7 linked regions of the Homo sapiens genome follow. The protein of the gene in region 1 interacts with the protein of each later gene in a biochemical or structural test. Each region holds a gene or a part of one and is shown in the gene's direction. Other genes may lie near its edges.

Region 1 (3,500 bases):
GTATTGGAAAAAGAAATGTGGGCCACTGTTTTCCCTGAGGTCAAAAGACAAAACAAGTGAAGGGTCTTCCACAGTTTCCCAAGTTGGGGGCAGTGAAGTCCTGGAGCTTGCTTGTGAAAGCTAATTTTTCACATTTCTTCACAACTTCAAGTTCAGTGACACCACCTTAGTTGCTTAAAATTGGCCACTGTAGGAGTATTCACATCATAGCAATCAGCAGATGCTACAAACCAGGGCTTTTTGGAAAGCCAGTCATGAAACATTTACCACCAGCACACTGCTGGTTGTGGGGAAGGTTGATTTACAGAAGGGTGAGAGGTGGTGGAAGCTGGAAAACAAAGACGCCCCCTCTGATCAGGGGAGACAGCTGTCCTGTCCAGAGGAAGGGGGAGAGGTGGCTTCAGGCAGGTCCTGCTGGCTTAGAGGAGAGTACGTTGCCCTTGGAGGGGAAGGGTGGACAGAAGGAGCAGTAAGCAGAGCTATGTGTTGTCAGAGCTCGTTTTTCGTGTCCCAGTTTGAGCCCACAAGGAGAGGGTTGGGTGTCCGTTGATGACAACTATAGTGGCCCAGAGGATTTCCCAGAGCCCTGGGGTTTCCTTAGCCCCTTGTCAGGGATGTGACCTGGCAGGTGGATCATTAACTGTATTGGCAGTGACTATTGTAAATAGCTGGTCGATAGTTAGATCACTTTGGCTGTTCATTACTTCATTATTTGCTGGGGCCTGTGCGCGGGGGAGTATTGATAGCGAGATGGCTGGCCAGTTAATTACTGTATTGAAACAAGGTTCCCTTACATCCTCTGCTCAGCTCTAGGGGACTCTATGGAAGGAAAGTTGGGGTATAGAACGCTAGGGTGTGGCTGTGCACTCCCAGGTTCTTTATCCCTCCCATCCCACCCCACCCCCAATTCCAGCCTCAGGAGGGAGGCAGGGTCCAGGGCAAGGTCTTAGCGGTTTTAGCAGGATAGGCCGGGTGGGGGAGCTCATGCCTATAATCCCAGGACTTTGGGAGGCCGAGGCAGGCAGATCACTTGAAGTCAGGAGTTCAAGTCCAGCCCGGCCAACATGGTGAAACCCTGTCTGTACTAAAAATACAAAAATTAGCCGGGCATGGTGGCGGCACCTGTGATCCCAGCTACTTGGGAGGCTGAGGCAGGACAATCACTTGAACCCGGGAGGCAGAGGTTGCAGTGAGCTGAGATTGCACCACTGCATTCCAGCCTGGGTAACAGAGTGAGACTCCATCTCAAAAAAAAAAAAAAAAAAAAAAAAAAGGCCGGGCGCGGTGGCTCACGCCTGTAATCCCAGCACTTTGGGAGGCCGAGGCGGGTGGATCTTGAGGTCAGGAGATCGAGACCATCCTGGCTAACAAGGTGAAACCCCGTCTCTACTAAAAATACAAAAAATTAGCCGGGCGCGGTGGCAGGCGCCTGTAGTCCCAGCTACTCGGGAGGCTGAGGCAGGAGAATGGCGTGAACCCGGGAAGCGGAGCTTGCAGTGAGCCGAGATTGCGCCACTGCAGTCCGCAGTCTGGCCTGGGCGACACAGCGAGACTCCGTCTCAAAAAAAAAAAAAAAAAAGAGAGCTTTAGCAGGATAGGTGTCCCCAGGTGCAGCATATTTGAAGGACTGGGTTCCCTCAATTTCCCCCCACCCCTGCTCCCCACCATCTGTAGCCCTGAAAGGTCTCGATCCACCTGCTCTCTGGACGGAACTGTGGCTTGAAGAGCCATTCCTGAGGACTTTGGGGCCTTTCTCTTTCTAGACACCCATTTTCTTAATTAGAAAGGGAAAAGACTGTGGCCTTGGGAGAGTTAAGAATAGTAAGACAAGGAGCTGGGCAATCCAGTAGTCAACTAGCTACATGTAGCTATTTAAATTAGTTACAATGAAATAAAATTAGAAAACTGTAGAGCTGCAGTCGCACCAGCCTCATTCATAGCCATGTGTGACTGGTGGCTGCCGTCTTGGGTGGTGCCTTCATTGTCCCAGAAAGTTCTGTTGGAGCAAGCCCAGCTGGAGGAACCCAGCTTCCCTGGCACGCCTGAGGGTGACATGGTGCCCTCACCGCCTTCTGTCTGTCCTCACTTTCTCCTGCCCTGTCCCTCCGCCCTCAGGTGAGAAGCCCTTTGAGTGTAAGCTCTGCCACCAGCGCTCCCGGGACTACTCGGCCATGATCAAGCACCTGAGAACGCACAACGGCGCCTCGCCCTACCAGTGCACCATCTGCACAGAGTACTGCCCCAGCCTCTCCTCCATGCAGAAGCACATGAAGGGCCACAAGCCCGAGGAGATCCCGCCCGACTGGAGGATAGAGAAGACGTACCTCTACCTGTGCTATGTGTGAAGGGAGGCCCGCGGCGGTGGAGCCGAGCGGGGAGCCAGGAAAGAAGAGTTGGAGTGAGATGAAGGAAGGACTATGACAAATAAAAAAGGAAAAGAAAAAAAAAAACAGAAGGAAAAGGAAACCTGGTAGCTTTTTGGCCTTGGATTCTCTCTGGGCTCCAGATGACCTGGATGCCAAGCCACTGCCCCTCCTCTGGGGGCCTCCACCCTCCTCTCCCGGCTGGAGGTTTGCCTGATTTTCTGGGATGGGGTTGGGTATTTTGTTCACTCAAATGGTGGCACATTTTTCTCCTTCCTTCACCCAGACCTTCTTTTATGTGTCCAGAAATGGAGGCTAGAAAGCAGGTGAGAGGTCCTCTGGTCAGAGCCACACGGTCTGTGCCGGCCTTCCTCCACCAAGACCCCCAGGAGATGAAGGGAGGGAGGAGGTGAGCCAGAAGGGCGCTCCCCTGCTGATGGGTCTGGGCTGGGTCACTAGCTGCTCAAAATGGCAGCTCTAGTTTGCTGGCGGCTGACTGGGGAGGAGAAGGGCTCTGTTTCTCTTCCCACCACTCAGCCCACCTGCTGCTTTCCTCTGCTTTGCCACATCTGGGTGTCCCCCGGTGGTCTCTGAGAGCCTCAGGACCCCTGCCCCTCCTCCAGCTCTTTGTTCCCAGCCTCCCCTTGACTCCTGTCCTCCAAGTCCCAGGGGAGTCCCAGCCCCTCAGGGACCTGGCGGTGTCTCCATCCTTCTCCGGTTCCCTAGTGGGATAGCTGCCTCTGACTTCAGGGTCCCTCCTACCCTCAGCCTTCTGAGAACACAAAACAAATCCAATACCCCACCCTAGTCCAGCACCATCGTGAGCAAGATTCCTGCTGCGCTGCTTCCAAAATGGAAAAGCATCACAACTAAATACCTAATATCCTACCAAACAAACCACAGTCCCTACGTAGCCCTACTTCAGTCCCAGGAGAAGGAATCCATGAATGGGCTGAGGTTCCGAGGGTAGGTTGTGGATGTCTTTCTCTAGAGGGGTCCCACACCTGGAAAAGAGGACACCCAGCCCGTGGGATGAGGGAAGCTGGGCAAGGGAGAAAGTTGTTGAGTCACACTGGGGACCCCAGATGTAGTGAGCTCAGCAAGAAAAGCCAGGTCCAGAGAGAGTCGCACAGAATT
Region 2 (3,500 bases), on another chromosome or scaffold:
TGTTGGCCAGGCTGGTCTTGAACTCCTAACCTCAAGTAATCAGCCTGCCTTGGACTCCCAAAGTGCTGGGATTACAGGCGTGGGCCACCACTTCCTGGGCAGATTTTCAGGGGGTTGATTGCATGTCTGGACTGGCCCCCTACTGCCTCCTGCCCTTGCTACTCAGGGCAGAAAGCAGCAAGAAGACAGAAATCCTGGTTTGGGGGAATGTGACATCTGTGCACGTTCATCTGGGGATCTTTGTGGCTCTTGTTTGACTCCAGACCCAGGAACCACTAGCCAGGGTGTGTCCAGGCTGCTGTGGTGAGCCTGAGGCTAGCTGGCTTCCTAAACTAGCCCTCTGCAGCCACCATGAACAGGAAAACCCTTTTTGTGTCACCAGCCAAAAGTTGCCCTCAAAGAGTAGTTTCTGCTGGGCACAGTGGCTCACACCTGTAATCACAGCACTTTGGGAGGCCGAGGCACGTGGGTCGCCTGAGGTCAGGAGTTCGAGACCAGCCTGGCCAACATAGAGAAACCCCCGTCTCTACTAAAAATACAAAAATTAGCTGGGTGTTGTGGCGGGCGCCTGTAATCTCAGCTACTAGAGAGGCTGAGGCAGGAGAATCTCTCAAACCCAGGAGGCAGAACTTGCAGTGAGCCGAGATAGTGCCATTGCACTCCAGCCTAGGCAACAAGAGCAAAACTCCATCTCAAAAAAATAATAATAATAAATAAATAAAAGAGTAGTTTCCTGGGATTCCTGACTAGTTGCCTACCCAGAAATTGGCTGCAGAGTTTCCTGTGGCTGGAGGAAAACTGGGGACACTTGGGCTGAGGAGGACTCAGAGCTGGAGGAGAGACAGGCTAGGGGGCTCTACTTGGCCTCACTGCCCAGGTGCTAAGAAGGAATGGTGATCCCGCTTCTCTTGTCTCCATCTGACTTGGGTGCCCCATTCCTCAGGCCATGGGCAGTAACCTCTGGAGTCTGATTATGTAATAACTCACACAATGTGGGACTTGGCCTTTATAAAGCCCTTTCATTTGTATTACCTCATTTTATCTTTTCACAATACTCTAGTGAAGTAGGCATTTCTTATCCCTGTGTTTTACATGAGGAAACCAATGTTTAGAAAGGTAACGTGACTTGCCCAAAATTACCTGGCTAGAAATAGCAGCAGAACCAGTCTGGAACTCATGCACTCAGTCTCCTCCATCCAGACGTGTCCCCTCCACCTCCTGGGGTAAAGGTGGAGAAATCCAGTTTGGAAGATGTCTCTGGACCCTAGAGGGTTCTTGCATCTGTTGTAATACAAGTTCTGAAATGGGTCACAGACGTGGGTGGGAAGAATGTGTCCTAGTCTGGTGGGTGGCTGGCTCTGGACAAGACACAAAATTTTGCCCCTACCCTGGGATGCTTGGAATGTACTCATCCCCCCTCCTTCTCTGGGGAAGCCAGGAGTTGTCTGCAAAGGGAGGGGGAGGTAGGTAATATTAGGATGTTTACATTATTATCCTTTTGACTCAGGGTGGGGGTGGAGGGATTATGTAACTGAATTGCGGGACTCTGAGGCCAAACTTTATTTCTATCTTCTGAGTAACTACCTGTGGAGTTTGAATGATGGACTGGAAGTGAAAAACAGACTCAACTTCAGCTTCCCTCCTCCCAGGAAAGCAAAGTCTCTGAAGTCATCCAGACTGCTGTTGAATCCTGGCTCTACGACTCACTAGCTTTGTAACCTTGGGCGAGGTGTTTAACAAAAGCTAAGCCTCAGTCCATCTTTAAAATGGGGCTAGTAACTTCTCCTTCACAGAGCTGGCTTTAAATGAAATAATTCTTGTAAAGCAGTTAGCACAAAGTACTTGGCTCATGGTAAGCCTTCAATGATTGCTAATTATTATTCTTTATTATTCAAGTTATGAGTAATAAATAATAATAACATAGTCAGAGAGAAGGGTCAGACTGCCCCCCAGGAGCCTATCAGATATGCTTCCTTGGAGTTACCTGCGCTATCCTGCATTGTTCAAAGTGGAAGGAATGATGAATTTGGAATCTGCCAAGACTTGTTCCTAGTCTTAGCCCTGCTGCTTCCTAGTTGTGCCACTTTTGGTGAATCACTTAATTTCTCTGACCCTTAATCTTAGCTTTTCCATCTGTAATATGGGGTTGTACCTGCCTACCAGAATGTTAGGAGGCTCAGTTGAGCTAGTAGATAAGGCTAGTGGCTTGTGAATGGTAAACTGCTGTGCACAAGTGATTTTCCAGGGGTGCTTGTGCAAGTGTCCTCTATGTCCTGGCAGGATAGGGGTCGCTTTTAGGCCTACATGGGCTGATGGGACAGATACATGGAGAGGCTGGGCAAGGAACTGTGGACTGTGCTATACGTATAGTGGGCCTGACCTACATTTATCCTGCTGTGAGGTGGTTTCTCGAAGTACCCAGGAGGAACTAGGGCAGGGAGAGGCTCAGGGCAGGAAAGCAAGAATGCAGTACCACCCAGCCTGGCCCCTCTGCCACTGCTGGTTGTGGACAAGTCTGTCTCTTGGAGCTTCCCTGGTGCTCTGTCCGCAGGAAGAAGGGATTCCTTGTTCTGAGGTACCAGAGAAAGCACCTCCTTCCCAGAGAAAGCACAGCTCAGAAAAGAGGGCCACCAGGTTCTTGGTGCTTCCTTCAGCAGCTGGTGGTCTAAAGTCCTCAGGCAGACAGTGCCACTGTGCCCCCTGGCTGGATGGTAGGCAGTTGTCAGGTGTGAGTGGGCAGCACACTGAGCTCAGAGTCAGACAATCTACATCTACATCTTCATTTCTGTCTTACTGTGTGACCTTGGGAAAACCACTCCACCTTTCTGTAAAACAGGGCTCCTACTTATATCAAAGGATCTCTGGGATGCTCAGATAAAGGAAAGGATGTGAATGTGCTTCTTCAACTGTAAGCACGTCTGAGTCTTTCTAAGAGCTTCAAGGAAATGCTTTGTGTTAGAAAAGGCAGTTGCCAGCCCGGTGTGGTGGCTCATGCCTGTAATCCTTGCACATTGGGAGGCAGAGGCGGGTGGATCACCTGAGGTCAGGAGTTTGAGACCAGCCTAGTTAACATGGTGAAACTCCGTCTCTTCTAAAAAATTACAAAAATTAGCTGGGCGTGGTGGCGGGCACCTGTAATCCCAGCTACTTGGGAGGCTGGGGCAGGAGAATCACTTGAATCCGGAGGTAGGGGTTGCAGTGAGCCAAGATTGCGCCACTGCACTCCAGCCTGGGAGACAGAGCAAGACTCTGTCTCAAAAAAAAAAAAAAAAAAAGAAAAAGAAAAAGAAAAGGCAGTTGCCATGTGATTTATTTCTTGAGTGAGAAGAGCCAAGGGATTGTTTCTGACAGTCTTCCATGCTCTGGCAGGGCAGCTGGGCAGAAAGATGTTTCTTGATTTGTTTGGTTTGTCCTGTGATGAAAGAGGCCTGGTAGCTCAGCGTGCAGAGGCCAAAGGCCAGAGTTGAGCTCCCAAGTTGGGCCCTGCACCCAGGGGGAGC
Region 3 (3,341 bases), on another chromosome or scaffold:
ACATCCAGACACTGATGGTTTTACACATGATGGATTTAATCCTGACTATAACCCACTTTACAGATGAAAGTGAGCACAGAGAGATTAAGTAACTCACACACAGTCATTCGTAAGTCATGAGATGGATTTGAACCCAGGCGGGTTAGCTCTAGAGTGCTTGCGTTTAACTGCTAAGCTATGTCCCTTCTGCACTGACAGCTGTGTAAGAGACATTTCTAAGCAGAAGTTGAGAGCGGTGGAGGACCTTTGCACACTTGAGTTCCCGCATGGTCCTGTGAGTCGAGTGTAGGGCCCAGCTCTCCCTACGAGGGATGGGGCTGGGCCTCGTGTACCTGCCCCTCTGTAACCGAGCTTGGTTTCTGATCTCCTCATAACTTCATGACTTTATGCAAGACAGAGTGGTTCCTGATATGTGTAACCCTGAACCCTTCCCTCTCCTTGCCACTAACCCCATGTCCACACAGTTACTCTCTCAGGTGGGCTGGCCTGAGATTGGGACACCTCCTCTCCTTCAGGATCTCATATTACAGCCAGCCCTGTCCAGCACAGAGAGGCCGAGGTTCAGAGCCGGGCAGTGGATTACGTGGGGCCACTCGACCGTGTGGCTTTAGGAACCCCAGGTTCCTGATCCCAGTCTAGGGTCCTGACCTCAGAATGGCCACTGACCTTGAAACCCTTCTAACCTGTCCTGGCCCCCATCTCTCTGCCTTCCCTAATCGCTGCCCGTCTCCCTACACAGGACGTGCACCATGGCAACGGCACCCAGCAAACCTTCTACCAAGACCCCAGTGTGCTCTACATCTCCCTGCATCGCCATGACGACGGCAACTTCTTCCCGGGGAGTGGGGCTGTGGATGAGGTAACCGCATGTCAGGGCCACATCTTCCAGCCTCATTGACCTCCTCCTGACACTTACTCTGCCTCTGTCATGACGAGCTGTGTGATCCTGGGCAGACTGCTGAGCCTCTCTGATCCTAAACTTCCCCACCTGGAAATGGGGAGGCTGGATGAGCTGGGCTGGCAGCTCTAACAAACTGGTGTTCCCCTTCTGGGACTCTGCTGTCCTCATGTCTCTCTTGCCTCCTGTTTTCCAGGTAGGGGCTGGCAGCGGTGAGGGCTTCAATGTCAATGTGGCCTGGGCTGGAGGTCTGGACCCCCCCATGGGGGATCCTGAGTACCTGGCTGCTTTCAGGTACGTGCTCTGGGGGCCCAGAGGGGCAAGTCCACCCTCTCCTGTCCCTTCTCCCAAGAGCACCAGGGGGGAGGTGATCAGTTGGATTGTCAGCCTGTCCCCACCAGTTCCTAGACATTGTAGGTGAACGCCAGTGAGAATAGGACAAACAGAGAGAAGAATGCAAAAGTCAAAGGGTGCTTTGCAAAGGCATACATTACCGAGAGCCAATGTCAAACTGATTGCTGGCAGGTGGGTGGTGGAGTGAGCAGAGCTGGCACATTTAGTCAGAGAAGGCTGCCACTCTATTTGGGAAAAGAGAATTCTGGAAATGGATCTTCAAACACTTTTCTGGAGTTATCTCCATGACAGCTAATTCTACGAGAGCCCTGGGCTGGAGTTCCTGGAGTCTTCTCAGAGCCCAGGGCTATGAAGAACACCCAAGCAGGCCCCAGAGTTGGATCAGGGGTAGAGGAAGGCAGCTGGGGGGGGGCCTGGAAGAGGGAGAGGATGAGAGAATGTAGCCAGGTGGCGCAGAACCTCAGAGGACCTAGTTGTCCCCTACTCAGCTCTCAAGTAGTGAGTAGCTGGGTGTGGTCAACTCAGTCCAAAGGACTGAGCACTTGTAGTCCCTGAAGCTTTGTGACCAGAGTCCATCTCCGCAAGGCTGTGAGATTACCCTTTCCCTGTGGCTCCGGCCACTGCACCCCACAGATGCTTGCATGCACACACACACATGCACACACACATGGTCACACACACTCCTCTTTCATTCCCTCTGGTGCTCCATCCTTGGCTCCTTTCTGCCTCTTGCTAGTTAAGTCCCCTAGGGGGCTGAGTCCTTAGGCTGTGTGTGCCAGGGACATGGGTGGCCAGCCAAGGTCAAGGAGGTCAGAGAAATCTGCCAGTTGTGCTGGGGCACTGGGAGCCTTGGAGTCCTAAGAACAGGGTGCCCCACCGCAAAGTTGGCAGGACCGCCCCTGGCAACCCTGCACAGTACGATGATCGCCACTTCTTGTGACCTCACAGGATAGTCGTGATGCCCATCGCCCGAGAGTTCTCTCCAGACCTAGTCCTGGTGTCTGCTGGATTTGATGCTGCTGAGGGTCACCCGGCCCCACTGGGTGGCTACCATGTTTCTGCCAAATGTAAGGGAGCCTCAGCTGAGGGGGACGTTAGGGACAGAGAGCCAGGCGGTGCGGGGAGTTGGGAGGCACTCCCAAGTCAGAAAGGGAAGGTGGCAGTGGCCAGCCCAGGGCTTTCAGCCTGAGGACTGGAGTATGGCAGCTGGTCCTGAAATTCCCCGGGATCTCCTAGCCGAGCACAGCCCAAGCCCTTTCTCAGGACCAGGCCGGTTCACCACGGAGGGCTTGACCAGGTCATACCCATGGGGACTTAAGTCCAGTAGGCAGGAAGCTCAGCCGTGGGACTCCCCACCACAGCTGGGTTGATTCCAGGTGGGCTGGCAGCTCCTCCAGAGGAAGGGGAGAGAGAAGCAGCACTCTCAGAATAGAGGGTGGCCACAGGGCCCAGAGTACAGAAAGAAGAGAGGGTGTAGCTCAGTGAAAAAGACACAGGCTAGAGTCAATGACCCAAGTTCAGGTCCTACCTTGCTGCCACTTACTAGCTGTGGGGCCTTTCCCAAGGCCCTTAACCTCCCTGAGCCTTGAGTGAAGCATACTAGTAGGTTTTGTACGACATTCAATGTGAAAGCACTTTGGAAATAGTGATTGATACATGTGAGTCATTCTTTATTAGGGAGGAAGCAAGCAGGGAAGCCACAGGGGTAGAGAACAGGGTCACCTCTCCACTCCCGCCCCTCCCATTTCTCCCCTCCCAACCTCTAGGTTTTGGATACATGACGCAGCAACTGATGAACCTGGCAGGAGGCGCAGTGGTGCTGGCCTTGGAGGGTGGCCATGACCTCACAGCCATCTGTGACGCCTCTGAGGCCTGTGTGGCTGCTCTTCTGGGTAACAGGGTGAGCCGTCTCCCTCCCCCATCCATGCTTCTGTCAGGCAGGTAAGCCCGGCTCTCAGGACTACCCAAGGAGCAGGCAGATGGGATGGGACAGGGTGGGAGTGGCCAAGCCTGAAACAAGGTAGGCGAAGCGGAAGCCTCTGTTCCAAGTTAGGTCCAGGCAGCATCTCCTGGCCTAGGTAGAGTGTGC
Region 4 (3,500 bases), on another chromosome or scaffold:
TTGAATCATTTACTTCTTCCAGGACACTGGGATTGTTAAGGATGATTTTTTTTTTAAAAAATGAAAGGTCTCACATATTTATTACTGAACCTAGCCAACCAACACGTTCATAACAGATTCAGAGAAAAAAATATATTCCCAATAAAACATGTCCAACTCTCTAGATAGTGGTGACATTTTCAGCTCGATATGGTAACATGATTGTGACCTTCAGACAGCATAAGTATGTTGTATCATGCAATGCCTTATAGACCCAGCTTGGTTCTTCTCCAATGGCTCCTTTTGGAGTTTTACCTGATTTTATTACCAGTTTTCATCCGAATCCACTGGGGAATGGGTCAATTTTGCTTTTGTTTCTTGGCCAGGAATCACTTAACCCTGAAAGTCTTGTGAGAAGACATGGCGAGAAGTGGAGTCAAGCACACACCATGATGGCAGATAAAGGAAGAGAGGCCGATAATCTTTTTTTTTTGAGACGGAGTCTCGCTCTGTCACCCAGTCTGGAGTGCAGTGGTGCCATCTCGACTCGCTGCAACCTCCGCCTCCCAGGTTCAAGTGAGTCTCCCTCCTCAGCCTCCCAAGTAGCTGGGATTACAGGCACCTGCAATCATGCTCAACTAATTTTTGATCTTTGTAGAGATGGGATTTCACCATGTTGGCTAGGCTGGTCCTGAACTCTTGACCTCAGGTGATCCGCCTGCCTTGGCCTTGCAAAATGCAGGGATTACAGGCATGAGCCACGGTGCCTGGCCCAGTTAATTTTTTATTAAGACATCTTTAGCATTCCATTTTGGAATTCCCTGAAGTTGTGATTTAAAAAAGTATATATATATAATGCTGATATTCTACTTAATTAATTTAATTAATTAATTTTTTTTGAGACAGTTTCGCTCTTGTTGCCTAGGTTGGAATGCGATGGCGCCATCTTGGCTCACCACAACCTCTGCCGCCTGGGTTCAAGCGATTCTCCTGCCACAGCCTCCCGAGTAGCTGGGATTACAGGCATGTGCCACCATGCCCAGCTAATTTTTTTTTTTTTTTTGAGACAGAGTCCTAGCTGGAGCGCAATGGCGTGATCTCTGCTCACTGCAACCTCTGCCTCCTGGGTTCAAGCATTTCTCCTGCCTCAGCCTCCTGAGTAGCTGGGATTACAGGCACGCACCACCACGCCTGGCTAAGTTTTTTTATTTTTAGTAGAGACGGGGTTTCACTGCGTTAGCCAGGATGGTCTTGATCTCCTGACTTAGTGATCCGCCTGCCTCGGCCTCCCAAAGTGCTGGGATTACAGGCGTGAGCCACTGCGCCCGGCTAATTTCATTTTTTTTTTTTTTTTTTTTTTTAAGTAAAGATGGGGCTTCTCCATGTTGGTCAGGCCGGTCTCGAACTCCCGACCTCAGGTGATCTGACTGCCTTGGCCTCCCAAAGTGCTGGGATTACAGGCATGAGCCACTGCGCCATCCCGGCTGATATTCTGTTTCTTTTTAAAAGAGTCATGGGGAAAAGTTCACACAGATACTGTTATTGAGCACCTTAGTTTTACAGTTTAAAATCTGGATAATTCCTGCAACGTGACTATGTTTACTTAAAGATACGTTGTATCGGTTATATTTTTTGGCTATTTTTGCATTCAGTTGCCTTTTCTGAGCTAATGAGGATCTGAAGGAAAAGACCTGAAGGAAGGAAGGAAGGGTGGAGTTTTGTTTGCTGGGCTGGTTGTTCTCAATATCTAGGGCCAGTTATTTTTAAAGGTTTTACCAAAGAGTAATATACATACAAAAAAGTGCACAAGAGTGTTTGGTTTGCCGAACTTTCACAAACTGAACACATCCATGCAACCAGCACTCAGATGAAGAACTGCTGTATTGACTTAACAAGTAGAATAGTTTTGTCTGTTTTTATACAGCATAACATTTTATAAGTGAAATCATACAGTATGTATCTCTGTGTGTTGGTTCTTTTGCCCGGCACTGTTTAGAGGTTTGTTCATTATTATTGTATATAGTTGTATGTTATTACATCTCATTGCTGTGTGGCTTTCCATTGTGTGGAATGCAGTACACTCAATTTACTTATTCATTCTGCTTTTGATGCCCATTGAGGAATTTTCTAGCACCTGTTTTTAATATGAGCCAAACTTATACCTTTTATAGCACCTTCTATTTCAGGATTACTTTTGGGCTGAATAACAGAAAGTTTGATTTATTGTAGGTTAAACAATTTTTTTTTTCTCATAAAACAAGAAATGTAGACAAAAGTAGCTCAAGGCTGATGTGGTAGCTCCACAGTTCCTTCATATTATTTTCTTCTCCATCCTTAACAGCAGTCTTTCACTCTGGTGCTTGTCTACTTGTGGGCACAAAAAAGCTACTTTGTGTTCCAGACAGGAGAAAAGGGAAAAAGTATGTTCACTTTATATCTCTTTGGCCAAAATGGGTATAAAAGAAGCTGGGAAATACGTTTTTTATCTGGGTAAATTTAGGTTTCCCTTTGTAAGGAAGAAAGGGAAAATAGATACCAGATAGGTAATTAACAATGTCTGTCATACTTCCAAGTCTGTTTGCTAGTACTTTTGGATGCAATCAAACTGGTTTGTTCTAGGCTTAGCATAGGTCTAGACTCAAAGGGTAAGGTTTACACAACCAGTAAAATTTTTAGTTATAGTTTTGAGTTCCTGAGAAGCTATCTGTGCATGACTAGTGTTTAACTACCATTCAGGGTTGAATGTAAATATTCAGAGGCCCATTGTGTTGACAGCTTTGACCTAAACCTTGAAGTTATACAGTTAAATCTGGTCAGTTCTGTTCTAAATCTCTAGTACCGTCTTACTAAGTTTGAACATATGCATCATGAAGATGAAAATATACATATATTTTTGTGTTTTTAGAATCGTGGGCCCAGTGCAGTGGCTTACTCCTGTAATCCCAGCACTTGGGAGGCCGAGGCAGGCGGATTGCCTGAGCACCAGAGTTCGAGACCAGCCTGGGCAACATGGTGAAACCCTGTCTCTATGAAAAAATACAAAATTTAGCTGGGTGTGGTGGTGTGCGCCTGTAGTCCCAGCCACTGAGGAGGCGGAGTTTGCAGTGAGCCGAGATCGTGCCACTGCACTCCAGCCTGGGTGACACAGCGAGACTCAAAATAAATAAATAAATAAAATGGAATTGTGGTAAATTATTTAAGTATAAGGGAAGTGACTTCACTGTAATTCTCGGTTTTTCCCTTTTAATGGTGCATTAGAATTATCCTGTTTAACCCTTTTTGAGCTTTCTTCATTAGGAAATAAAATAAATTGATATATATAGAATTTGAAGCTTGGAGTGACTTTTTTTTTTTTTTTCCGAGACAGTCTTGCTCTGTTGCCCAGGCTGGAATGCATTGGCGTGATCTCGGCTCACTGCAAGCTCCACCTCCTGGGTTCACGCCATTCTCCTGCCTTAGCCTCCCAAGTAGCTGGGACTACAGGCGCCCACCACCACGCCCAGCTAATTTTTTGTATTTTT
Region 5 (4,009 bases), on another chromosome or scaffold:
TAAACTCACCCCATGGACTCCACCCTGGGGCCTTCCATCCTTAGTCCAGCTCCTTTACTCAGTTCTTCCTGCAAGACAGAGGTGGAGGCATTGCTGGTGTCTTCTCCCCTTCTAGGGAGAGGCCATGCCCTCTCCCCTCAAGTCTGTCGCTGACTTCCTCTGGCCCTTCCCCTCATGACGTTTTCCCTGCTCTGCTGCTAGAGATATGTGCAACTCTCCTTGCAAAATGTTCTCAATCCACAACTTCAGAATTCTTATCCAGCTTTCTCTTGCCCATCTAGCCCACCAAACCTGAATTCTCCCTTTTGAGCTACTGAGAAGACTGGCTATACTAAACTGAATCAGTGACCTTGAAGTTGATCTGTTGTATTGAGGTCCCTCTGCCCCTATATTTATCCTAAATGGTATCTAGGAAAATATTCTCTCTTTAACTTGTTTATTCTGGTCATAAAGATTCGGGACATTACTGAGGGCTGGGTAGGGGCACTAGTTGACCTCTAGGTTCTACGTCCTGTTCTTCCACTGACAATTACCATTTCCAGTAATAGGTGTAACCCAAAGTTCTTTTTTGTTTTTTTCTCCTTCCCTAACCCCACCTGTTTATACTCTTGCCTATATATGTGTATTTGCAGACCCCACACATTCCCAGATACACATACATTGGTCCTACATGTTTCCCCTGTTTCCAGCTGCCATCTAAGTGAGCCTGCACTTTTTACATGCTGAAAATCTTTTTTCACCCTCTATGGCCTCCTAGGTCCTTGGGAATAATTGGGAGGGATGAAGGGACTCCTGCAGTCCATGAGGAAGAGGACAGAAGTGAGCGCCCAACCAAAATGAATGCTCCCTTTCCAAAATCTCTAGCTGAATGCCTTAGCAGGAGTGGCAGGGAAAGAGATCTTAACCCCACCTCCAGCACCAAAACCTAAATCCATCTGCTCAGGGCAGGCAGGAAGAAATGTCTATTTTCTCCTGTTTCAGGTCATCCTATCCTCGAGTTATCCATATGCTGTGTATTTGAGACAGGGAACTGTTCCTGTCCCCAGCCGATGACCAGACGCCCATCTTTCTTCCAGTGGGTTACTTCTCCCCCATCAGTCCTTCGCTCTGCGCCCGCTGACCCAGTCGGGGCTGGCTGGTGGAAGAGGGCGGGGAGAGCCTTCTAGTTGGCGAGTGGGCTTTAGGACCCAACGGGAACCCGTGCCTCTTGCAGCAGCCTAACCCAGAAGCAGGGGGGAATCCTGAATCGAGCTGAGAGGGCTTCCCCGGTTCTCCTGGGAACCCCATCGGCCCCCTGCCAGCACACACCTGAGCAGGTAGGACCATGCACACCCCTTCCCAATTCTTTGGCCGCCTTTGACCCCGGCCTCTGCTTCTGATCTAGCCATTTCCTTCTCGCCAGTTCTGGCTTTCCCCATCCCTCCTCTCCCGTCGCTCACTGTAGTCCTGGGAGGTGGGAGCCTGGGAACAGTGGGGTGTCTGAAAGCTCAGAGCCCTCTGCACCCTCCAGCACCCTTCCTGCATTTCTCCTGAGGCAGTTCCCGTTCTCTAGATAAGAGTGGGGAGTAGGGGGAAGGTCTGCCCAGGCCCCACGCCCTTGCACCCTCCTTTGCGGTATTGCCTAATACCCCTTCCCCCACCTCACCTAGACTGGAGAATTGGCAAGTGCTGAGGTAACAGAGAGAGGAGAGAGCCAGAGAGGGACCTGAGCTTTCCCAAGGGATTTCTTTCTTGCTTCCTCACCCAAAGAGCTCAGGACTTTGCCCCTACTCCCTACACACCTTGTAGGGGAACTAATGTCCCCTTCCAGGTTCATCTCACACTTGGGTGGCTAAAGGCTTTGCTAGAGGGTAGTGGAGGTTGTGAGCATTTTGGTGAGCTTTTCCTCTAGGAAAGTTCTTTCAGCTTAGAGCCCCCATCCATGTCAACATTTCAACACCTGCTGCAGAAGCCCCCCGACCCCACCTGTGTGTGTGTGTGTGTAGGGACAATGTGGTTGTAAGATCTAGAAGCTTTGGATAGAGGTGGCTGCATGCATTGAAGGGGAGGGATACCAGAGTGTGGCCCAGGCCAGAACAGGCTCAGTCCAGATGGCTAGGGAAGGGGGTGTGGACCAGATTGAGGAGGTCACCCAGCCTTGCCAGCTCCCTGAGCTTCTTGGCTTTCAGAATCTCAGGCTCCTGGTGTTTCTCTAGAGCTACAAGGTCCCCAAGCTTCTGCCCCGCTACAGGCTCTCTGGGAGAGGGCTAGATGGCACCTACTGTTTACAGTGGCTTATTTTTCTCTCCTGTGGTGGGCAGACAGGCCCTGCTCTCTGAAGATCTAGGGCGTGTCATTCTGGTTTGGTGGGTTTACAGGAAGGGTGTACACCTTGTCTGACTTACCATGTGTGAGTGTGTGTCTTGCTTCTGGGGGTAGTAGACTGGGGAGGGGGGTGATAGAAGAGACTGGTCACACTGAGGGAACTCCTCTAGCAATCAATGTATGATAGGAATGGGTGGCATGTCCCCATCTGGTAGCTCTGTCTAGGTGTGGGGTGTGCTCTGCATTCTTCCATGGCTCCCCGGGTCCCCTAAAGGTTGGTTTTAGAGGACAGGGTGGATAATGAATTGGCTTCAGACTTCGTTCTGGTCTTGATCCAACAAGGAAAGTAGAGATTCTGACTGTGAGCAGTGAACTAGGAATCAGAGGCCTGAACTGGAGACTTAGACTGGTTACTTAACTATATGTGTTTATATAGGTCTTCCCCTTTGCTAAGCCTTAGTTTCTCCATTTGTAAAAATGGCTATCAGTAGCAAGCAGGGACATTGCCACTAAAACCACAGAGACAATGTATCGTAAAGCTCACTGCAAACGGTAGTAATGGCTGGGGGAATCTAGGATGGAATCCTCTTCCTAAATCTAGGTCAATCTCTCCGCCTTTAGTTTTCTTCCCCCATCCTTTGCCCATCTGGGGGATGGAGGAACTAGGCAGGGCTATTGCCCCGGTTACTGCAGAATTCCCCTAATGCAGGTTGTAGCTGTTACCAGAGCACCTGTGGTCACAGAGTACAGATCTCTCCACCAGGCATTTCTTCCTCTGGGGCCCCATACTTGCTCCCCTGAGCCATGTCTCCACCTTCCTTCTGCCATCCCTGCTTGGCGTCCTTGTCTCTCTCTCCCCTGCCCAGTGGCCTCCTTGTCTGGCTCACTGGGCAGGAGCCCTAATCGGATTCGACAGCTGAGATATGTGTGGCGGCTAAGAGCAGGCAGGAGGGAAGCCAGTGGGAGGATGGTATGAGGACTGCCCCTGGCACTGCCCCGGCCTCCCAAGCACCACCTTGGGCCTGCTGATTTCTTACTTGGCTTGGCCCCAAGGAAGGGGTGCCAGAGGAAGCTCAGGAATGAACAGGCTGGGGTCTGGAGACTAGGAGAGGAGGAAACACACCAAGGTCCTCAGGACCTGGTTGATATTCGATGACCTTAATGTCAGTGTCACTGACTCTGACAAGGAGGAAAGGACAGCGATGAGCCAGGCTGACCCCCGCCACCCCATTCCCATAGCCCCACTTTCTTCTCTCTTCTTGTTCAGAAATGTTTCACTTTGCCTCATCTAGCCCCTTTGGCCAGTAGGTCACATCTGGGAGCTTCTGGGGGTGCCACATGTCTGCCTCAATCTGGGCTGTTTCCTCCCCTCCAAGATATTTCACTGTCTCTGGGCTGGGCGCCAGGACTCCTGGGTTTCCCTGCCTGTGGTGCAGGGCTCCCCTGCAGGGCTCCAGAGAGTCGCTTAGCTGGTTTCCTTCCTCCTTTGTGGGGAGGGCCTTCCCCTAGGGCTGGGAGGTGTCAGGAATCCCAGGTGGGACAGGGGTGGGGGCACAGTAGCCTCTGGCACTGTAGCACCCCAGCTTCTCCCTCCTAGCCTCTGACTCAGCTTGGGGGCAGCACATGCCCAGCCTGGCAGGCATGGCCTATTCTTGCCTCCAGGCTTCTCTCTTTACAGAAGCCTACATCTCCTGCTCTCATTTTT
Region 6 (3,500 bases), on another chromosome or scaffold:
CCAACCTGGTCTCAAACTCCTGAACTCAGGTGATCCGCCTGCCTCAGCCTCCCCAAGTGCTGGGATTACAGGCATGGGCCACCATGCCTGGCCTCCACAGCATTCTCGCTGCCATCCCTGGGTTGCCGGCCAGATTAGGCAGCCTCGGAGGGTGGCAGTGAACACCAGCTACTCGGGTTTCCTGGTGATTCCCACATTTGCCCCAGGGGTGGCAGGTGAGGGCTGTTGGGCCCCATGGGGGCATTTGTTGGGGCTCTGTCATGCCAGAGTTTGGCCTGCGTGACTTTGCGCTCTCCAGGAGGCATATGGATGAGGCGGTGTGTCTCCGCAGGTGAAGTGGAGCTGGAGGAGTACTACCCGGCCTTCCTGGACATGGTGCGGAGCCTGCTGGAGGGCAGCATCGACCCCACGCAGTACGAGGACACCCTACGCGAGATGTTCACCATCCATGCCTACGTGGGCTTCACCATGGACAAGCTGGTGCAGAACATTGCGCGGCAGGTGAGCCGGGCCGGGGTGGGGCCGGCCCTGAGGACGGCGGAAATGGCTCTACCATCATTTCACTCCCCGCTCGGGAGGGGGCCCGTGGTCAGCACAGCAAACCTATCCTGTTTTTTCTTAATTGAGACAAAATTCGCATAACGTAAAATTAACCATTTTGAAGTGTACAGTTTGGTAACATTTGGTACATTCACAATATTGTGCAACCACCACCTCTGTCTAGTTCCAGAACATTTCATCTTTCCAAAAGGAGACCCCATCCCCATCAGCAGCCACTGCCCATTCCCCTGCCCCGAGCCCCTGACATCCAGTCAACTGCTTTCTGCCTCTGTATTTCCCTCGTGCTTCATTCCTTTTTATGGCTCTGTAATACTCCATTGCGTGGGTAGCTACGTTTTGTTTCTATCTCTTGGTGGACATCTGGGCTGTGGCTGCCTTATAGAGATTGTGAGCAATGCTGCTCTGAACATTTGTGTACAAGTTTTTGTTCCGTGTCCCTGTTGACAAACCTTTCTTGAGGTTAAATTGACAACATGGAAAAAACCTTAACCCACTTATCCTGAGGGAGGGTGGGAATAGTGATTTCATCTGCGTTGGTTTTAGTAGTAGCAAAAACCCAGGCCCCACTGAATGTCAACACAAGGAAACTGGTCACGTAAATATAAACAGCAGACGTCCCAGACGAGCTGGGTGTGGTTCCAGGACATGGGTCCTGCCTGGTTTCTGCCAGAATCATTGTTCATGGTGACCTCCATTTCCTGGTCACCAAGTAAGGCTGTTCATCATAAAGTGGAAAAAAAGCTGGAAAAAAAATAATGCCATTACTCTCCCACCCAGACACAGCCACGAGAAGCATTTCAGACAGGACGTTTCCTTCCAGGTTTTAAAGACTGCTTAATGGAGCTAAAATACCCAAGCAGAAAAGTCCCCAAATTTGAAGGGGGCAGATGGATGGGCTTTTCATCAACAGAACCCCTGCCCCTGTGTCCCCACCCAGCCACCTGCCACCCATGGACACCCACAACCCTGATTTCTTTTTCTTCTTCTTCTTTTTTTTTTTTTGAGACAGAGTTTTGCTCTTGTCTCCCAGGCTGGAGTACAATGGCACAATCTCTGCTCACAGCAACCTCTGCCTCCTGGTTTCAAGCAATTCTCCTGCCTCAGCCTCCTGAGTAGCTGAGATTACAGGTGCGCACCACCACGCCTGGCTAATTTTTGTATTTTTAGTAGAGAGGGGGTTTCACCATGTTGGGCAGGCTGGTCTCGAACTCCTGACCTCAGGTGATCCGCCTCCCTTGGCCTCCTAAAGTGCTGGGATTACAGGCGTGAGCCACCGCACCGGCATCACAACCCTGATTTCTACAGAGAGGTAGATCCCTGGCCTCGAGCTGTGTGTTAACAGCAGCACACAGCGCCCAGCCGCATCCTGGGAGCGTCATTCTGTGAGATTCCTGTGTTGAGATGAACCGGCCAAGGATTCCGAGGAACGACCCCCGATTCCGTCCACCTGTCTCCTGAGGACAGGCATGGGCGGTGCCCCGTGGGTGTGTCTGCGGTGGCCGTCTATGTACATTTCTGCTGCTGCCCTTGGGGTAAGGCACAGAGAGGTGTGTCCCGCTGATGGCAACTTTCCGTTTCCTGGGTCACTCGTACCAGTGCTGTGCGAGGCCGCACTCTGTGTCCTCCCTGGGGCTCAGGGGCGTCTCTCCATCAGCTGGGAGTTCAAATCTCGGTGGGCTCACGTTGCATTTCCCTGATGGCAAATGTGGCTGGGGCCCTGTCCTTTCATGGCCGTTGGGACATCTTTTCTCATGGAAAGCTATCCACGGTGTTTGCGCCTGTTTCCGTTGCGTCTGCCTTGTTGGTGACTGGGAGGATTTCTGTGTCTGGCCATGAGGACTTAGTGAAACCCATAGCTGCGTTCTGACACCTTCGCTTCAGCCCCCTCCACTTTCCCTCCGTGTGCCCGAAATGGGTCCCTGCCCATCACCATCCACAGCAGTGGCCACTCCCCAGGTGAGGGAAACACGCACGGGGCAGCCTGGAGAGAGGACACCCAGGGCCCAGCACATGGTGTTGGGGAAGTGACGCAGGGGACGCCAGGGGGCTGGCAGTCTGTCCCCTCCCCCCCCCCCCAGGCTGGGCACCCCTCATGGGCCATGGCTTCGGGGACAGCAACCTTGCTTGTGACACCAGGAGATTGGACCAGATGGTTTATGGAAAGCATTGATTAATGCTTTAAAAAAATCCCCCCCTTCCATAAACAACTCCTCTAGAACCTGTTAAAAACAAAGCAATGAAAATGGGGCTGTCTGGCTGGAGCTGTAGTGAGAGCCACATGCTGCCCTGCTGTCCCAGCTGTGGCTGCACCACACCCCAGCTGCATCTCCCTGGGCCAGGTGCTCACTGCGGGCCCCTCCACACTGTTTGTAACCTGCCTCGAGGCCATGTCTGGACTCTGCCTCCCTTTTTCTTAAAAATTAGCATTGCTGTTTTTTAGCAGTAGCAGTTGGCATTCAGTGGGCACTTGCTGTGTGCCAGGTACTGTCTGAAACCTATGCGTGTCCAGGTGTTATTGTATCCATTCAACAAAGCTGCACATGGAACCCCCAAGGAGTGTGGTCCCCTGACCAGGGCCTGGGCTGTGCAGGCGGGTGATTCACACAGCCCTGTCTGCCCCACGATCCCTGCTGTTTCCATTCCTTCCTTCTTCAGTGCAAAGGTAAAAGGAGTAGCAGTGTATTTACAGCCAAGCATTTAGGGGAAAGGAACAGCCTGCACTCAGGCCACCTTCAGCTCATTCCTGGGTTTGCTTTGGAACATATTTTTCCGTGTCTTTTCTGTGTGTTTCTCACACCCGGGCAGGGTTTGCTGGTCTGGCCTGGTCTGTTTTGTTCAGGTCTGGTCTGGTCTAGTTTTGGTCTGGTCTGGTCTGGTCTAGTTTTGGTCTGGCCTGGTCTGGTCTGGTTTGGTTTTGGTTTGGTCTGGTTTGGTCTGGT
Region 7 (3,500 bases), on another chromosome or scaffold:
TAGTGGAGAGTGCTCTGTACTGTCTTCCTGGTCACGTGGCCCTTGCCAGAGGAAAGGAAAGGATGGTTTGTTTGTATAGTACAATGGAACTTATTTCAATGTATTCTGTATTTGATTTTACATTCCTGTTCTCATATTTTTACCTTAATTACATAACAAATATTAAAAGATTGACTTCACCAGGCCCAGTTACAATCGCCAGTTTGATAATTCTTATACGTACTCAAATGAATTCAGAGACCAGATGGGAAAAGATTTTGATAAAACCTCTGGTACATCACAACTGAAGTCTTTTCTTGTCCAAACTATTGTGAAACAGATGTTCTTTCTGTTTCATTTGCTAAATCTGGAAACGTGACTGCTTTTGAGACTTTGTCCTCTCTGACAGGTAATAAATATAATCCTGATATTTTTCAAGTTGTTTGACAGAAGTGTAATCTCCCCAGAAGTCCTGCTGGACAGGCTTCACTTTTCCTTTGGAGGAACACAGAGATACAGGGAATATGTTTTAATGACATATACCTAACGCTGAACATGAAACCAGTTATTTTACTTTTATTATTATTATTTTTAGAAACAGCCTTGCTGTGTCACCCAAGCTCAAGTGCAGTGGTGCGATCATAGCTCACTGCAGCCTCCAATTCCTATGCTCAAGTAATCCTCTTGCCTCAGCCTCCTGAGTAGCTGGGACTACAGGTGTGTGCCACCATGCCAGGCTACTTGTTTTTACTTTGTTATAGAGATGGGGTCTCTCTGTGTTGCCCAGACTGGTCTTGAACACATGATCTCAACCATTCCTCCCACCTTGGCCTCCCAAAGTGCTGGGATTACAGGCGCGAGCCACTGTGTCTGGCCTATTTCACTTTAGAAGTAAATTGAATGCCACATGCGAAGTTTGTTAAATTTTTTTAAAAAAGGAAAGAAAACACAAAAGTAAACTACCTAGTCGCATCAGAAATGCCATAGTCATTTTTGCCATTTTTTCATTCATTAGAATTCAGTGCATTATGTTATTTTGTTATCTCTGCAGTAACTTTCTATCATGTTATTTATTTTCTTTGTCTTATTTAAAGCTTCTGAGATTATGGATTTTTGTTTCCTTCCCTGAAGTTAAGTGTTATCATTCCTATATAGTACTAAGCTGTCTACAGAATAGTGGGAGTCTGCCCTCTTGAGTTGGGAAGATCCTAGTTTGAATCTTGGCTGTGCGACTTTAAAGTTCATTAACTTCTCTTAGCCTCAGTCACCTGAACTCTGCAGTGGGGATCCTTATGCCTCAGAGTGTCATTGGGAGGACTCACGAAAATACGCTTGTACTTTGAGTTCAGTACCTAGCCTGTATGAGCCAGCATTAAGAGGGACAGTCATCACGCAGCGCTTTGCACACAGCTCTCACGCCACATCCTTTGGCTACTGTTTTGGTAAATCTTTACTAGTAAATGTTTCTTAAAAGCATTTACATTCATGGACATGATTCAGAAACTAACAGTTGTTTTTTAGGTCTCACTTTGAGATTTAAAAACCCTTAGGGCAGAGACCAGATTTTATTTCTTACCTCAGAGTTTCCCTGTAGGACAGGAACCAGCAACAGCCTAATGAGCTGATTAAGAATTTTAGAGATTTAAAATTTAAATTAGGATTGCCAGTTTTAGAGACTGGCACATAAATGTTTTCATTTAAGGCAGTGACTGTTTCCTTTAGGATATGATTTTTTATCTTTCTAAGATGAGATCACCATCCTCAGAATAATTTGTACCCCGCTGGGCACTAGCTAATGGAGGTGATGTCATGCTAAGCAGCACTTCAGTGAGTTTTGCGGGAACCAAAGCTCTGCTCCCAGGAGTGTGGATTTGGTGCTTTCATGTGGAAAAAGCGGATGATGACAAGTAGAGAGCAAATGTGCGCATGTCTGATGCTGTAAGGATTTCCTTTACCATCATATAAATTTTTAAAGTATATCAAAATAAACTGATAACTGAGAAAATATATGTTGTTCAGATACTAATAATGAAGTTAATGAAGTCCACTATAGTATTTGTCCCTGAGAAATCTTTATCAAATATTTTAAATCCTATTGTAAAATAATGTATTTTTTCTTTCAGTTTTAGAGACTGGCAATCCTAATTTAACATCTCCTTTTGAATTCCCCACCACAGGCACACTTTCACACATTCACTCTTTAATAACAGGTTGTTTCAAATTGTTAATACTTTATAGCTTAATATAGAAATTTCACTTTAGAAATTAATTTTTATTTCTCTGCCTTAATGCTATAGATGTTGTAGTCTGCTTTACTTCAGTATTGTAATGAGTAGTTGGCTAACCACCATGTAAATAGGGAGAACATTCTAGTTTTTTACTTGTGTAGGAAAACACAGCTTGAAATGTCTAAGTATCTATTTTAGAGTGAAGTAAATTTATACTGACAATATTTTTTTGTGTTTGAAGACCTGACTGTTACAGCGTTGGTGGCAAGTGTTAAGGGATCCAGGAACTAGACAAGTGATTCTGAGACCTGAGTTCCAGGTTTCTAAGTAATATCAGTTGGTCTACTGAGAACTTTGCCATAAACATATGTGTTCAGAAATTTCCTTTCTTAGCAGCAGCATCCTGAATTGAACAGAATTACACACACATCAGCCCAGTAAGAAACAATTCATGTTAAGTCCATTGCTATGCCAGGATAAATCTTTTAAATCACAATTATTTTTCCTATTTATATTTTGTCAAATAAGAATGTTCTAAAAACCAAAATTTCTGTTTTCTTTTTTTTTTTTTTTTTTTTTTGAGACGGAGTCTCACTCTGTCGCCCAGGCTGGAGTGCAGTGGCGCGATCTCGGCTCACGGCAAGCTCCACCTCCCGGGTTCACGCCATTCTCCTGCCTCAGCCTCCTGAGTAGCTGGGACTACAGGCACCCACCACCACGCCTGGCTAATTTTTTATATTTTTAGTAGAGACGGGGTTTCACCGTGTTAGCCAGGATGGTCTTGATCTCCCGAACTTGTGATCCGCCCGCCTCGGCCTCCCAAAGTGCTGGGATTACAGGCAAAATTTCTGTTTTCATTTAAGGCAGTGACTATTTCCCTTAGGATGTGATTTTTTTATCCTTCTAAGATGAGATCACCATCCTCAGAATAATTTGTACCCTGCTGGGCACTAGCTAATGGAGGTGATGTCATGCTAAGCAGCACTTCAGTGAGTTTTGCGGGAACCAAAGCTCTGCTCCCAGGAGTGTGGATTTGGTGCTTTCATGTGGAAAAAGCGGATGATGACAAGTAGAGAGCAAATGTGCGCATGTCTGATGCTGTAAGGATTTCATCTACCATCATATAAATTTTTAGAAGTATATCAAAATAAACTGATAACTGAGGCAATGTATGTTGTTCAGATACTAATAATGAAGTTAATGAAGTCCACTATAGTATTTGTATAGTATTTGTATATTACAGTACTCTGAAAAGCTGGTCACTATTTAAAGTTTCCATTACCAGTCACAAGG

Evidence for each region.
Region 2: the proteins of ZBTB16 (region 1) and HBEGF form a complex in vitro, tested with the Homo sapiens proteins (2 studies listed by BioGRID).
Region 3: the proteins of ZBTB16 (region 1) and HDAC7 form a complex in vitro, tested with the Homo sapiens proteins (one study listed by BioGRID).
Region 4: the proteins of ZBTB16 (region 1) and SUMO1 form a complex in vitro, tested with the Homo sapiens proteins (one study listed by BioGRID).
Region 5: the proteins of ZBTB16 (region 1) and RARA form a complex in vitro, tested with the Homo sapiens proteins (one study listed by BioGRID).
Region 6: the proteins of ZBTB16 (region 1) and SIN3B form a complex in vitro, tested with the Homo sapiens proteins (one study listed by BioGRID).
Region 7: of the proteins of ZBTB16 (region 1) and CASP3, one has a biochemical effect on the other in vitro, tested with the Homo sapiens proteins (one study listed by BioGRID).

Annotation. Positions count from the first base shown.
Region 1 is NC_000011.10:114,248,211-114,251,710, forward strand, and holds part of ZBTB16 (zinc finger and BTB domain-containing protein 16), read left to right. Parts: intron 1-2,115; coding exon 2,116-2,345; 3' UTR 2,346-3,500. UniProt on the Homo sapiens protein: Acts as a transcriptional repressor. Transcriptional repression may be mediated through recruitment of histone deacetylases to target promoters. May play a role in myeloid maturation and in the development and/or maintenance of other differentiated tissues.
Region 2 is NC_000005.10:140,336,604-140,340,103, reverse strand, and holds part of HBEGF (proheparin-binding EGF-like growth factor precursor), read left to right. Parts: intron 1-3,500. UniProt on the Homo sapiens protein: Growth factor that mediates its effects via EGFR, ERBB2 and ERBB4. Required for normal cardiac valve formation and normal heart function. Promotes smooth muscle cell proliferation. May be involved in macrophage-mediated cellular proliferation.
Region 3 is NC_000012.12:47,785,563-47,788,903, reverse strand, and holds part of HDAC7 (histone deacetylase 7), read left to right. Parts: intron 1-739; coding exon 740-859; intron 860-1,094; coding exon 1,095-1,192; intron 1,193-2,200; coding exon 2,201-2,319; intron 2,320-3,018; coding exon 3,019-3,152; intron 3,153-3,341. UniProt on the Homo sapiens protein: Responsible for the deacetylation of lysine residues on the N-terminal part of the core histones (H2A, H2B, H3 and H4).
Region 4 is NC_000002.12:202,228,598-202,232,097, reverse strand, and holds part of SUMO1 (small ubiquitin-related modifier 1 isoform a precursor), read left to right. Parts: intron 1-53; exon of another isoform or gene 54-450; intron 451-3,500. UniProt on the Homo sapiens protein: Ubiquitin-like protein that can be covalently attached to proteins as a monomer or a lysine-linked polymer.
Region 5 is NC_000017.11:40,307,971-40,311,979, forward strand, and holds the start of RARA (retinoic acid receptor alpha), read left to right. Parts: upstream 1-1,209; 5' UTR 1,210-1,316; intron 1,317-4,009. UniProt on the Homo sapiens protein: Receptor for retinoic acid. Retinoic acid receptors bind as heterodimers to their target response elements in response to their ligands, all-trans or 9-cis retinoic acid, and regulate gene expression in various biological processes.
Region 6 is NC_000019.10:16,870,898-16,874,397, forward strand, and holds part of SIN3B (paired amphipathic helix protein Sin3b), read left to right. Parts: intron 1-331; coding exon 332-501; intron 502-3,500.
Region 7 is NC_000004.12:184,642,948-184,646,447, reverse strand, and holds part of CASP3 (caspase-3 isoform a preproprotein), read left to right. Parts: intron 1-1,725; exon of another isoform or gene 1,726-1,905; coding exon of another isoform or gene 1,906-1,917; intron 1,918-3,500. UniProt on the Homo sapiens protein: Thiol protease that acts as a major effector caspase involved in the execution phase of apoptosis. Following cleavage and activation by initiator caspases (CASP8, CASP9 and/or CASP10), mediates execution of apoptosis by catalyzing cleavage of many proteins.